2 linked regions of the Homo sapiens genome follow. The gene in region 2 interacts genetically with the main gene of each other region. Each region holds a gene or a part of one and is shown on either strand. Other genes may lie near its edges.

What was found.
Region 1: changes in DDX11 (region 2) and NIPBL are lethal when combined (synthetic lethality), as found in Homo sapiens cells (one study listed by BioGRID).

What each region holds. Positions count from the first base shown.
Region 1 is NC_000005.10:37,061,623-37,066,980, reverse strand, and holds the end of NIPBL (nipped-B-like protein), read right to left. Parts: intron 3,192-5,358; coding exon 3,003-3,191; coding exon of another isoform or gene 2,958-3,002; exon of another isoform or gene 2,455-2,957; coding exon 2,089-2,454; 3' UTR 568-2,088; downstream 1-567. UniProt on the Homo sapiens protein: Plays an important role in the loading of the cohesin complex on to DNA. Forms a heterodimeric complex (also known as cohesin loading complex) with MAU2/SCC4 which mediates the loading of the cohesin complex onto chromatin.
Region 2 is NC_000012.12:31,083,860-31,091,072, reverse strand, and holds part of DDX11 (ATP-dependent DNA helicase DDX11), read right to left. Parts: coding exon 7,012-7,213; intron 6,491-7,011; coding exon 6,404-6,490; intron 6,105-6,403; coding exon 5,947-6,104; intron 5,941-5,946; exon of another isoform or gene 4,861-5,940; intron 4,848-4,860; exon of another isoform or gene 3,762-4,847; intron 3,136-3,761; coding exon 3,090-3,135; intron 2,030-3,089; coding exon 1,922-2,029; intron 1,671-1,921; coding exon 1,583-1,670; intron 1,188-1,582; coding exon 979-1,187; intron 1-978. UniProt on the Homo sapiens protein: DNA-dependent ATPase and ATP-dependent DNA helicase that participates in various functions in genomic stability, including DNA replication, DNA repair and heterochromatin organization as well as in ribosomal RNA synthesis.

The sequences.
Region 1 (5,358 bases), on a different chromosome or scaffold from region 2:
TATACTACAAGGATCCTTTAGGAACTGGTTTACTTCAATAAGGATCATCTCTCTTAATGTCTGATGTTCAATTAGCTTAGAGTAGTGAGACACAATTACTTCAATTCCAGATTTAAATCCCTATCATGACATTAGTAAATTACCAAATCCTTCTAAGCCTGCTATCCTCATCTACAAAATGAGGATAAAATATATAACGAGAGTTTTTGTGAGAATTAAATGACAGCATGCATCACTGTCACGTAAATAGAATTCAAAACTGGCTTTTTACTCACATTTACATTCTTAGTACTCTCTCTGGGCTGGATTTTATTCTTATATTTTCTCTAACCAGTACCCTTTTTGATATATTATTCTCAGAAGTGACCTCAAATCCTTTGTTGATATACATAAACTCCAAGAAGAACCAACCAACCAACCAACCAACCCAATCTAGTTTTGTTCCAGAGTTCACAGTATAAGGAAAAGAGAAACATGTAAGTAAGGGGAACAAAACGAAGAGTGAGAAAACATTTCCGTGAAGAAAGCATTTGAAAGAATTCCACATAGGAAATAGATCCTGAAAAGTTATTTTCATAGTGGTTTAATAGGTGTCACAAAAAGGTATTTTGTGGCAATGTCATTCTTCCTCAAAAATTGAATACCTTCATTTATTTGCCAATTTCATAAAACAGCATTCTGGAGGTCAATTTTTTCAAAGTGATTTAAAAATAAGTAAAACATTTTTAAAAAGAATTAAACTTGAAACAGACCTCATCCACTGTAAATTTTAGGCATTACTATTCCTGAGTGTCAACTATACATATCAAATGATTAAACACCTCCCTCCTGATTTAGTCAAGATATCTGCAGTAAGTAATGTGTAAATGACAACTGTTCCCAAGACTTATGATAAAAGCTTTTAGCATAGATTAGAAAATGAATAAACATCTCAACAAGTAAAATTACTCTTTTCAGCATTAAAAAATAATTTGTGAAAAATGTAGTGAGTGTAATTATGAAGTGTCATATTCATCTCAACTCTAGTTCTAAAATAACCGGACATCATTTTAACCAAGAGAAATGCTGGTTTTCCAAATAACAGGTTACCTTTACCCGAGGTTTAAAGAATAAATATCAGCATCATGACATCACTAGAAAGAAATTGAAGCATACAAGGAATAAACTATAGTTTCTTTTTATATCAAAATGTACTCTTGAAAATGTGTTTGGCACAGTGCTAAATCATATATAGTTAATACTAAATATTGCAGGATACAATAAAACCCTGGAGTTAATTGTTTACACCCTCTTATGGGAATGAAAATAATAGATACCAATTATTCAGAAGTCAGCCTATACAAACTGTATAAACAATATTTTATGTTTTGCTTTGAAAACCAGTGATATAATAAATTTTACATAAAAGACTGTAAAATAATATAAATGGATTTAAACAGATTTTTACAATAAGAAATTCAAATGGAAACAGACAAGTAACAAAGAGAAGTAAAAAAATTTATTGCAGTATTCGCTCCACCAGATTACCTGGGGATCCCTTTTCTTGTATTGTTTTCAGGGTGACCTAATACATCAAAATCTACATTTACAAAAACTCCTTCTGCAGATAGGTCATAGATACTGCATGCTTTTTTTTTTTTCAACAGAATAAATTATATATCCAGGAGATTCTGCCATTTTACAGCCTGGAAAAAACAATGCTTCCCTGGAAACTGGGCTAAGCTAAAGAAAGCCATCCGCTGCTAGGTTAAACTCCAAGAACACTTTATTAAGAACATTAACAGACTAATTTCCAACATTCACTTGTTTATTTTTTTTAAACAGAAAGTTTTTTTTCCAAGATATAAACAATTTTTGTTAAACTATAATACAGTGGGAGTAAAAATGAACTGAGAATCTGTTTCTGCTGCACAACAGCGAAGGGAGCTCCCACAAAAATGTTTGCCCAACATTTCCTTCTTTTGTTCCTGCATCCCAGGTTCCACTTACTCTTCATAAAACTGATTTTTTTTTGCCAGAATGTTGGTATTTCAAGTTTTTCTGCCTTTTAAAAAAATTCCTGTAAATTTGGCTGCATGTACAAATTCATTAGCTGGAAGTCCCATCCTTGGCGGCATACAGGGATCGTAAAGTCTGAACAACTTTATTAGTCAGCTTATTAGCACTCGTTAGAGCAATTTTTTTGTAAATAATGTCTGACTCTTTAATAGTGTCTACCCAAGGCACCAGTTTGCGGCCATCACGGCGCTTAGCCTCAGTCCAGGAGCCACTGTAGGAGCCTGCCATCCACTGAACACTGAAGCCACTGCTGGTTTTCTGCACTACTCTTGCAATTTGTGGTCGATCTTTGTACTTTGGACAGCAAATAGCGATGACATCCATGACGTCAACACTTTCATTCATCTGTGCTGCCAACTCCGTAGAGTCTGAATTTCGTTTTGACCTTCTCAATGACTAAAACATTGGGAGGGGGGAAAAAAGACCAAGTGTTACACAAAAGAATTTTAGTGAAATTATTGTTTTTATTGCTTTTAATCCCTTGACGCCGGGAGTTGGGATTTCCCGGCACACTTCCATTGCCGGCAATGAGACGCACCGTGACCGCCAGCGCCAAGGGGTTAACATATACTTGTAAAACCATATAACTCTTAATTTGTACCCGTGTCTTTACTCTTATTGATATATAAAATTATATATACATATGAACCATATAGCTACATAAAACTTAGCAACAATAAAAATAACACACATTAATACAATTCAAAGAAAAATTAACCCTTTATGCTGGATAAATCTCATTTCTGTTTTTTTATTGTCTTTTATGTTAAACTTTCTACAAAAGGATGTATAAACGGGTAAGTAGAGAATCTCTATCTACAAAATGTTTTCTCTTTTAAGTATTACATTACTTGGTGTACATTTAATAGACTGACATATATAAGCACATAAAAATCATTTTACGTAATACGCTGCGAAATACGTTGACTCCTCCTCCGCCTCACCCCTGAAGTGCCTCCTCCTCTATCCTCCCCATCACTTTCATCATCTTCTGTCTCTGCTGCTGTATTATTTTTAGGGCTGCCTCCTCCAAGCAGTGAGGTAATTGCTTTGTTCCGAGCATTTGTGCTAGCTGAAACCTCCCCTTCTTCTTCTTCTTCATCAGGGTCCAGATGTTCCATGAGAAGTTTGAACTACAAAAAACAGATATTATTTCAGAATTTTAAGTAAATATTTCAAGCAAGATTGTCAAATTCCTAAATGTTTTCTATGGCAGTAGTTTGGTGTGGGTGAAACAGACGTTAGCCATCATCTAAATTAGGGGCTAGTAAACATTTTCTGTAAACAGCCAGGTGGTAAATATTTTTCATTTTGAAGGTCAAATAGTCTGTCACAACTACCCAACTCTGCCACTGTAGTATGAAAGCAGCTACAGACAAATAAATGAGTGGGCATGAATGTTTTCAATAAAACTTTGTTTGCAAAAACAGGCAATGGGTTAGATACAAAAACAGCCAGAGTTTTCAGACCCTTGGTCCAAGTCATCAAGCAATCAGGTGATAATTACTGATAGACATTTTCTAGTTATCTCCCCTCTTTGCTCTCTGCTAAGACGATACAAGAGAAAGCAAAGAATGTTGAAAAATTTTAAATAAGAACTAAAATATTTTTAAATTTTAGAGTAAGGTTTGCAGTCAATGAATAATATGAAAAGCCACTGTGTAGATTATATTCTTAGTTCAAAAAACCTTATTTTATGTTCAGCTACTTGCTTTAAAGTAGATTTTTAAAAATTTTTTTAAGAAAAATAGAAATGGGGTTTTGCAATGTTGGCCAAACTGGTGTCAAACCTCTGGCCTCGAGTGATCTGCCCACCTCAGCCTCCCAAAGTGCTTGTGAGCCACTACACCTGAAATTAAGTAGATTAAAATATAAAACTTTATTTTTATTTTTTAGGATAGTCCTCTAATTTCAAAAACATTTTTAAAAACTTTTATATTGTGATAAAATAGAAATATCATAAAATTTGCCAGCTTAACCCTTTTTTTTTTTCTTTTTAAATTGAGACAGGGTCTCACTCTGTCACTCAGGCTGAAGTGCAGTGGCACGATCATGGCTCACTGTAGCCTCCACCTCCCAGGCTTAGGTGGTCCTCCCACCTCAGCCTCCCCAGCAGTTGGGACTACAGGTGCACACCGCCATGTCTGGCTAATGTTTGTATTTTTTGTAGAGACAGGGTCTCACCCTGTTGCTCAGGCTGGCCTGGACTTCCTGGACTCAAGCAAACCTCCTACATAGGCCTCCCAAGGTGCTAAGATTACAGGTATAAGCCAGCATGTCCAGCCTACCAGTTTAACCATTTTAAATGTATAATTCATTGGCATATTGTACAACTATCACCACTGTCCATTTCCAGAGCTGTTTCTTTTTTTTTTTAATCACTGGAAACCACAGCTGTCCTCATTAAACAATAACTCCCCGTTCTTTCCTTCCCCGGTCCTTGGTAACCTCTAGTCTATTATCTGTCTCTATTTTTAAAGCACATTTTATATACATACATTTGCATACTTGATAAGTGAGAAAATCTACATATATATATATTGGCATTACTCATATAAGAACATACGAAAAAGTAATAATATTGGTTATCAGAAAAGAAAGGAACAGAATAGCCAAACACGGTAAGAGAATGACTGCTTGCAGTTTTACCTTTTATGACATATAAGCCATGTATTTTTCTGAATTAAAAACATAGCCCTCTGTATCCCCGGATTCCGCACCTGCGGATTCAACCCACAGTGGATCAAAAACTATTTGGAAAATGCCACAATAAAAAATAACAGCACTGGCCAGGTATGGTGGCTCATGCCTGTAATCCCAGCACTTTGGGAGGCCGGCGGATCACCTGAGGTCAGGAGTTTGAGACCAGCCTGGCCAACATGGTGAAACCCCATCTCTACTAAAAATACAAAAATTAGCCGGGCGTGGTGGCTGGCGCCTGTAATCCCAGCTATGCGGGAGGCTGAGGCAGGAGACTTGCTTGAACCTGGGAGGCAGAAGTTGCGGTGAGCCGAGATCGCGCCATTGCACTCCAGCCTGGGCAACAAGAGTGAAACTCCGTCTCAAAACAAAACAAACAGCATTACAATAAAAAATACAACTTAAAAAAAATGCAGTATAACAACTATGTATATAGCATTTACATTGTATTAGGTATTATAAGTAATCTAGAAATGACTTAAAGCATATGGGAGGATGTATGTAGGTTATATGCAAATACTATGCTTTTTAAATAATTTTTTTGAGACAGGGTTTCACTCCTGTCACCCAGTATGGGGTGTAATGGTGCAATCTCAGGTC
Region 2 (7,213 bases):
CTCCAGTGTCCCCATGCACAGAATTTCACTGGAATACTATTAACATAAAAGCAAAATATGGTCAAAGTACTTTAAAAATTCAAAAATTGTAAAGATTTTGGGCCATATTATGGTATTTGTGTATAAATGCCTATAGCACTAATCTTGCTCTAAAGGCAAACAGACGGGAGGGAAGGCCTGGGACACCATGGGGCCTGGCAGCTTTCCTCAGTTTCTCTGCCAGTGCCCACACAGCTCAGCAGGTATGCTGGTGAGCATTTAGCTGCTGTGCAAATGGTTACTTAGTTCCCTGAATCTTTTAAAACCTTACATTTTTTTCTGGATTATACAGAATTTTCCACTAGTGATATCCCGTTTCCAAAGTCACTCAAATTAAAGAAGTAGCAAGGAAATAGTGAAACTGCACCCACCAAATAACAGTGAGATACTACTTTTGATCTGCTACATTAGCAGTTCTTCCTTCTGTTTAAAAATCAAGAGAAGTTGAGGCAGAGAAGACAGTATTCTCACGTGCTGCAGGTAGGTGTAAGTTAGGGAAAGCTTTCCAGTTAAGAGTACTGATATTACAAAAAGGAAAAACTGGAAAACTGAATGGTTCTATCACTGACATCCTCCATCACATCATAGGCATGGAAGTTGGGAGCATCACTTGGAAAGCCATTTGTAAATAGATGTATGCAGCACACTCTTCTCAGCTCCTGGCATCCCCCCTCTCCCTGTGGTTTCACTAGGAATGCACCGGCTTTCCTGGCTCCTAAATACCATCCCCAGTAATGCCAACTGGCCCTGCTGCCTGGAGACCCCAAGGGATCCCACGCGCCTCCTCCAACTCACACATCAGGAGAGAATGGGTTAAGGTGCCATCAACCTGACCACGGTGGGGGGCATCCCCCAAACTACAGTGTGATGAGGACCCCCCTCATGGCCTAGACCACAGTGAGAGTCAAGAGCGGCTTTCTGGCCCTGCAGGGCCCTCACCTGGGCTGCAGGGATGGCAAGGCGGCTCCCGTAATAGGGACAGGCCCGGGCCTCCTTCCCAAGGGCCAGCAGCTGCTCCATGTCCTTCACCTCTGCCAGGGCCTCATCCCGGAGAAGGCCCATCTGCTCGTGGTTGTAGAAGGGGCAGGCTGCCTGCTTCTCCTGCCTCCTCCTCTTTGGCTTCTCCTCCTCAGCTCCTTTCTTCTTCTCTGAGGGTGGCACAGGCACAAAGAGAGAAAACAGAGAGGACAGCAACTGTCCACGGGCCCAAGAGGGGGTTGTGTAATGTTGAGACCCACTTCCATGGGGTAGGGTCTATAAGACCCTCCCAAGTACTGCCTACTGTGGTCTCATCGGAACACTGTAAGGTTTTACTTCTGTTCTCCAGAAAGAGCCCGTAAAATCATCTCCAAGCCAAGGATTCGGACCAGACACTGACCCAGAGAGTAGGAACACTTTTTCCCAAGGAGAGGGGACTCAGGAAGGAACTGGGGTCTCCTCTGCCATTCTTTCTATGAAAGACACTTAATGGTCTTCAGTCACTGCCACCCCTGCCTCACTCTCTCCAGACCACCTGCGGCTACACCATGGTCCCAGTGGCTACCGTGCCTGCTTCTCTGCATGTCCACACAGCGGTCGTTGATAAGCTGCACAGAACCTAGGCTTTTCACGTCTTCATTTACACAAAGGTTCTGCAGCAAAGGAGAAAGAAAGAGGCAAAAAGATGGTGCCAGCTAAATGACATCCTACCAACACACGTGGACCTGCCCCGCCACCTCTCCTTTGCCTTCCAGTGCTGGGCCGGCCAGGTCAGGGAGGGGGCTGCTCCTCACACGGTTCAGCCTGTCACAGACCCAGCGTCTCCCAAGGCCTGGACGAGCAGGACAAAGTTGTGGCGAAAGGAGCAGGATGGCCCCTGGTGGAAATACTGGCTACTGTTTACCTGCCGGGAGCCAAGGGAGACCAGCCGAACATCCTTGCCAAAGGGGCTCTTCTTCACCTCATGCACAAACTGGGCCAGCTGGGAGTGTGTCCGACTACAGTAATAAATCTAGCAGAGAGAAAGAAAGGCGCTTCAAAGAGAGAACCAAAACATCCCACAGCATTCTCTAACATCAAGGCACGCCAGGGCCTGAGAGGCTGAGGGAAAGGGAGTGGCTCCCAATGCACAAAGCCGAGGCAGGACAGCAATGTCCCATGTCAGGCATCTATCGAGGGACCCAGGGATTCCCAAGTCACCCACAGCTCCAGAAGTTCAAGGGAATGCCCCAAAGGCAGCTCCTTCCACGAGTCATATCCAGCCTCTAATCAACCGCTTTTGGGGGGTTGGCCAATCTTTGGACATGGGTGACCATCTCCCGTGGCAAAGGGTCCCCACTTGGGGAGGGTGGGTTGTTGGTGGGAGGGGAGGGAGTGTGTCACACACATCCCCAAAGGGAAAAAGGAAGGCTGACCAGAATACCCTCTCTCTACTCCTCTAAGGCAAGAGTGAAGGGAGAAAAAAAGAAAATACAAAGAAAATACCTACTTCCGACAGAAAACAAGTCATAAATCAATGAAACCAAATGGGAAATGTCAGACCATACACAACCCATAGCCCTCCATGCAAATGGGAACACAGACAAAGGGAGAAGCACACCATGAGAGACCCAAAGGGCAGGGGACTCATGTCTGTCCTACCCGTACCACCCAGCAGGGACAGAAAACACCCAGATTTCAGCCCAGAACAGCTGTTCCTCGATGCCCTGGGGTGGCAAGCATGGCCCTGCCCCCAGGAGAGGTCTCCCCAGGCCCCGAACCCAGGAGATGTCTCCCCAGGCCCCAAACTCAAGAGAGGTCTCCTCAGGTCCCTGTTCCCAGGAAAGGTCTCCCCAGGAGAGGACTCCCCAGGCCCTGACCCCAGGAGAGGACTCCAGGGTCCACTGCAGCTGGCCAAGGGAGCAACTTAGGACCAGGGTTGTGTGCAAGAAGCAACGGAGTCCAAGTGCTGGAAGCTCCTCCTTTGTGGAGAGGAGGGTGAGAAGTAGCCAAGTGACTCCAGCCTCCTCCCCAGGGGTGCACAGCCCAGCCTATACCCCCAGCACAGCACCAGCTGAGGACACTTGTGTTACCTTAGTTATGTGTTCTTCCTCCAGGTCATCCTCATCCTCATCCACTCTGTGTGTGTGAGAGAGAACAGAAAACAGTCTTCCCTCAGCAAACTCAGCAAAACGCACTGAGCATCTGCTGAGCGCTGGTGCTGAGCCCTGGCCATTCCCAGCAATGGGTTCCACCAAGGTAGCAGGTGCTGCTCGCTCAGAAACTCCCCCAGGCAAATGCCAACCCCAACCTCCCATGGCCGCTCAGGTCTGTGGGTAGGGAAATGTAAAAAGGAGAAAGGGGCTCAGCACCCCCAACCCAAGTCTTGAGTCGGAAGCCTCGGGACTCATGGCAGGCTGCTCTCCTCTCTGCCCTCCCTCCAGCAAGCTGGACCCCTCTGAGGCCCCAGGGCGGATATTTGCTCTTCATCATCTCAGGCCTTCGGATGTTCTGTGCCTGGAATGTTGTCTCCCCTCACCAGCTCCCAGTCAACTCTGAGATAGCAGCAGAAACATCACCTCCTCCAGGAAGCCTTCTTTGACCTTCCCTGGTAGGCCTGGCTGCTCTGACACAGATTCATGGCCCCTGCTCTTCACACCCATCTCATTCAAAATCGCTTCCTCTCGGTCTATCTCCCCAGACTGTCATGTCCACAAGGGAGGACCCAGGTCGGCCTTGTTTCTGCTGAGTCCCCGTGGCCTCACCTAGAGCTTGGTATGCAGCAGGAACCCCATGACCATCTCCTGGATGAAGCTACAACTGACCAATCGAGTGAACAGAGGATGCTGTCACTTATGACCAGCTACAACTCTTCTTGTGTCAGTGCCTCAGTCTGCCCTTCCCAGCAATGCGGGAAGAATCCATCAGCGCCAGGCGTTGGCAGGGAAGCCAGCCCTGCATCCCATGGCCTGAAGCTGAGCTAGCTCTACTAGTCTATGCTCCTCAGAAAACACAAAACCATCTGACAGGCACACGCTACCTATGGCAACATCACATAAAAAGAAAACATTTTTGTTCACCTCGAAATTCCTTTCTAACAAAACAGAATACAATTGTCTTGGGCTATCAGAAGAGTAATTATTACAGGCTTGGCTTCATGGTCACTAAAGAGCAGGCGGCTCTATCTTAAAAGGCTTGGATTCAATCTTATGTCGCATGCTGGACAAAGCCAGCAGGAGCTCACTGAGAGGCTGGGTGTGTGAAGAAATGAAGAGCAAAAATTTTCTATTCAGAACTCAGGTCCTCCGAGGCTCACGTTATCTCCTGAAACGTGAGGGCATGGGAAGCCCCAGAAGCTGACCTACAGGATCCATGGCTCTTGCCCAGACCTGAAGGAGCACTTTGTTCCTTTAATATTCACCACCTCCATCTCCACTCAAGTTCTCTGCCTTGTCCCCACGGGCTCTAAGGGAGAAGAGAGGGAGCAGAAACATGACCTCGGAGGCGGGCAGGAAGGGTTCATGGAGCACAAACTGTTTATGACCCCCTCTCACCAGCGAGGCATAAAGCAACACGGTGGTCTCTGCCCTGGGCAGGGGCAGAAGTCGAAGTTCACATGCGCAGCCTGGAATTACACTACCAGACTGCAACGAGGCAGCATCTGCTCATTCATGTCAACTCGATTTTATTGAGCACACCCCTATGCCAAACACTGGGTCAGCTCTGGGAACATCAAACTATAAAGACGTGGTTCCTGCCCTGAAGCAGCTCGAGCCCAGCCAGGGAGAGGAGGCAACAACAGAAGCACAAGCAGGTGCATGAGCAAAACAGAGCAGCTGACACCCGAAGCCACCAAGACGACACCTGAGCCAGGCCTTAAAGGAGAGGAAGACATCTGCCAAGGGAGGAGGGCAGGGTGTTTGGCCACAGCACGTTGCATGAGCAAATCCTCAGACAGGACAGAGGAAGGCCTGGTGCGCTGGAGGAAGTTCAGGGCAGCGGGGAAGCTGGCGTCTGGTGGATGGCGGCTGGAGGTGGCATCAGAAGGCGCCCTGCAGACAGACTGTGAAGGCCGGGGATGAACCTTCAGGAATATCCATGGAGGGTCTCTGGTCTTGCAGTTACCCTCCGACAGATGTGGTGGCCAGGATGTCACAGGACACACGGGACTCATCATCAGGTGCAGCCCCCCACCCCATCCACATCACCATTTTGTTTTCCTTGTAGGCAAACATGCTGACTTCACATAGGTGCTATTTGTTTTCATGTCTATTAACTGTCCCCTCCATGTCTTCTTCCCTTCTATGTCCACAGCATCTGGACAGTGCCATACTCAGAGCAGACACTCAGGGATGGTGGTGAGGTTCCAGTGTGAATGGGAACAGGGCTGTGACCAGGGATCCTGTGGGCCCGAAATGGCCTGGGTGGCCTGCTCAGGGCTAAGTCACCCAGCAGCTCATGGCTCATCAAGTGGAAACCTTGAGTCTGGACCAACAGAGGCTTTATGGGAGAAGGAAAGCTCAGGCTAAGGACGCCTTGATGGTTGGCACCTCACAGGTTACCCAGTGCAGTCAGCTGCCTCAGAGCCTGAGATCTAGAGCCAGGCCAGCTGAGTTCTAGCCCAGCTCTCCACTGCCGAGGCTTGTGGCCTCAGCCAAGGAGTCTCTCCTTGTGGGGCTGCAGCCTCCTTGTGTATAAGGCGCAGACACAAATGTTCCTGCCCTGCCTGAGCTGCCGTGAGGACAGCTGAGAGGACACAGGCCAGGCCGGTGACTGTCCTCACTGCCACTGGCACTCATGGACCCTAGGAAGGACCCGGCTTAGAGCAGAGGGCAGAGGCCACCATGCCTCTTGCCAGGTGCTTCATGGCATCTGTGGCATGAGGGAAAGAGCTGTCTTCAAGGGTGTCCCCTGGCCTGGGGCAGGGTAGTGCTACCGCCTCTGTCTCACCTGCTCGCCACCTTTTTCTCCTCATCACTCTCGTATTCGGCGAGGACCAGCTCCTCCTCCCCAGACTCCAGCTGCTCCAGCCGCTCAGCCTCCGGGCCTGTCTCTAGCATCTCCCTGCTGAGGCGGAGGAGATTCTCTCTTTCTTCTTCTTCCTGCCTCTGGACAGGGGTAGTGGAGGTGGTGAGGGAGGAAGAAGTCTCAGCACCAGTACCCACCTCCCCACATGCCAGAGACAAAGCACACCACGCCCCATTCACATAGGCCTGGCTGCCTGGCTGGAGAGAGGTCGACTCCTAGGATCCACGCCTCAACCACTCACAGCCCAGCTTCTGTACGGGAGCACATAGCCAGTGAGGGTCACGGAGGGGAGACCAAGGCCCTGACCACGCACCCATGAGCCTCCAAGCAGAGCAACCCTGCCTGGACATAATCCTGCCCCCCAAGAAATGAGGCTCACCAGGCGCTTGGCTGCATACTTGAGCTGCACCCTGTGCTGCAGCTGCTGCAGGCGTTCTTCTCGCTGCTTCCTCCTGGCCTGCTCCGCCTACAGGAGGCAGACATGAAGGAAAATCACCAAGGAAGCCCAAAACCAGGCCTCTCCTAAGGAGTCTGGGCCACTCAGCCCGGCGCCTCCTCACTGGGGGCATCTCTCCTTCCCCGGCCAGCACTCAAGGGCTGCCGCATCCCCTCCCGGGACCTCATCCCTGCCGGTCCCAGCCTCGCTGCTCACTGCGGAAGGCGGCACACTCCTCCCAAAGCCACACGCTCTCCATCAGATCCATTTGCAGCCATTGAACCATGCTGCCAATGGCAATGATCAGGTCCTTTCCCAGGTGAGTAATAAATGGGCACCAACAGTTCCTTATGTGGAGAAGGCCTGCTGACCTCCAGCTCAAAAAAGACAGCACAGCGGCAGCACCATAGACCCAAGGAGCTGAGGGAAGAGCTGAGAGGCACGGCAACGGCAGGGGAGCATGCACTGCCTGAGTCTCGGAATCGCCCCAGAACAATCGCTGAAGCCCTGTTTCCTCCAGTACTCCCACTTCCGGATACCCCAGGTCTCACCTTTAGTCGGTCCACCAGGTCCCTCTCTTCTTTCTTCTGCACAAACTGAGTAACCCAGGCCGGTTCTCCAGCAGGCCTCGGGGTGCCTGCAGCCCCTTCGCAGGAAGAAGACAGACACAGGGATTCATCTTTCTCATCATGTAAGGGGCCAGTTCCAGTTTCAAGGAGTCGTGCCTCTTCTTCACGCTTCTTCTGTTCAAAG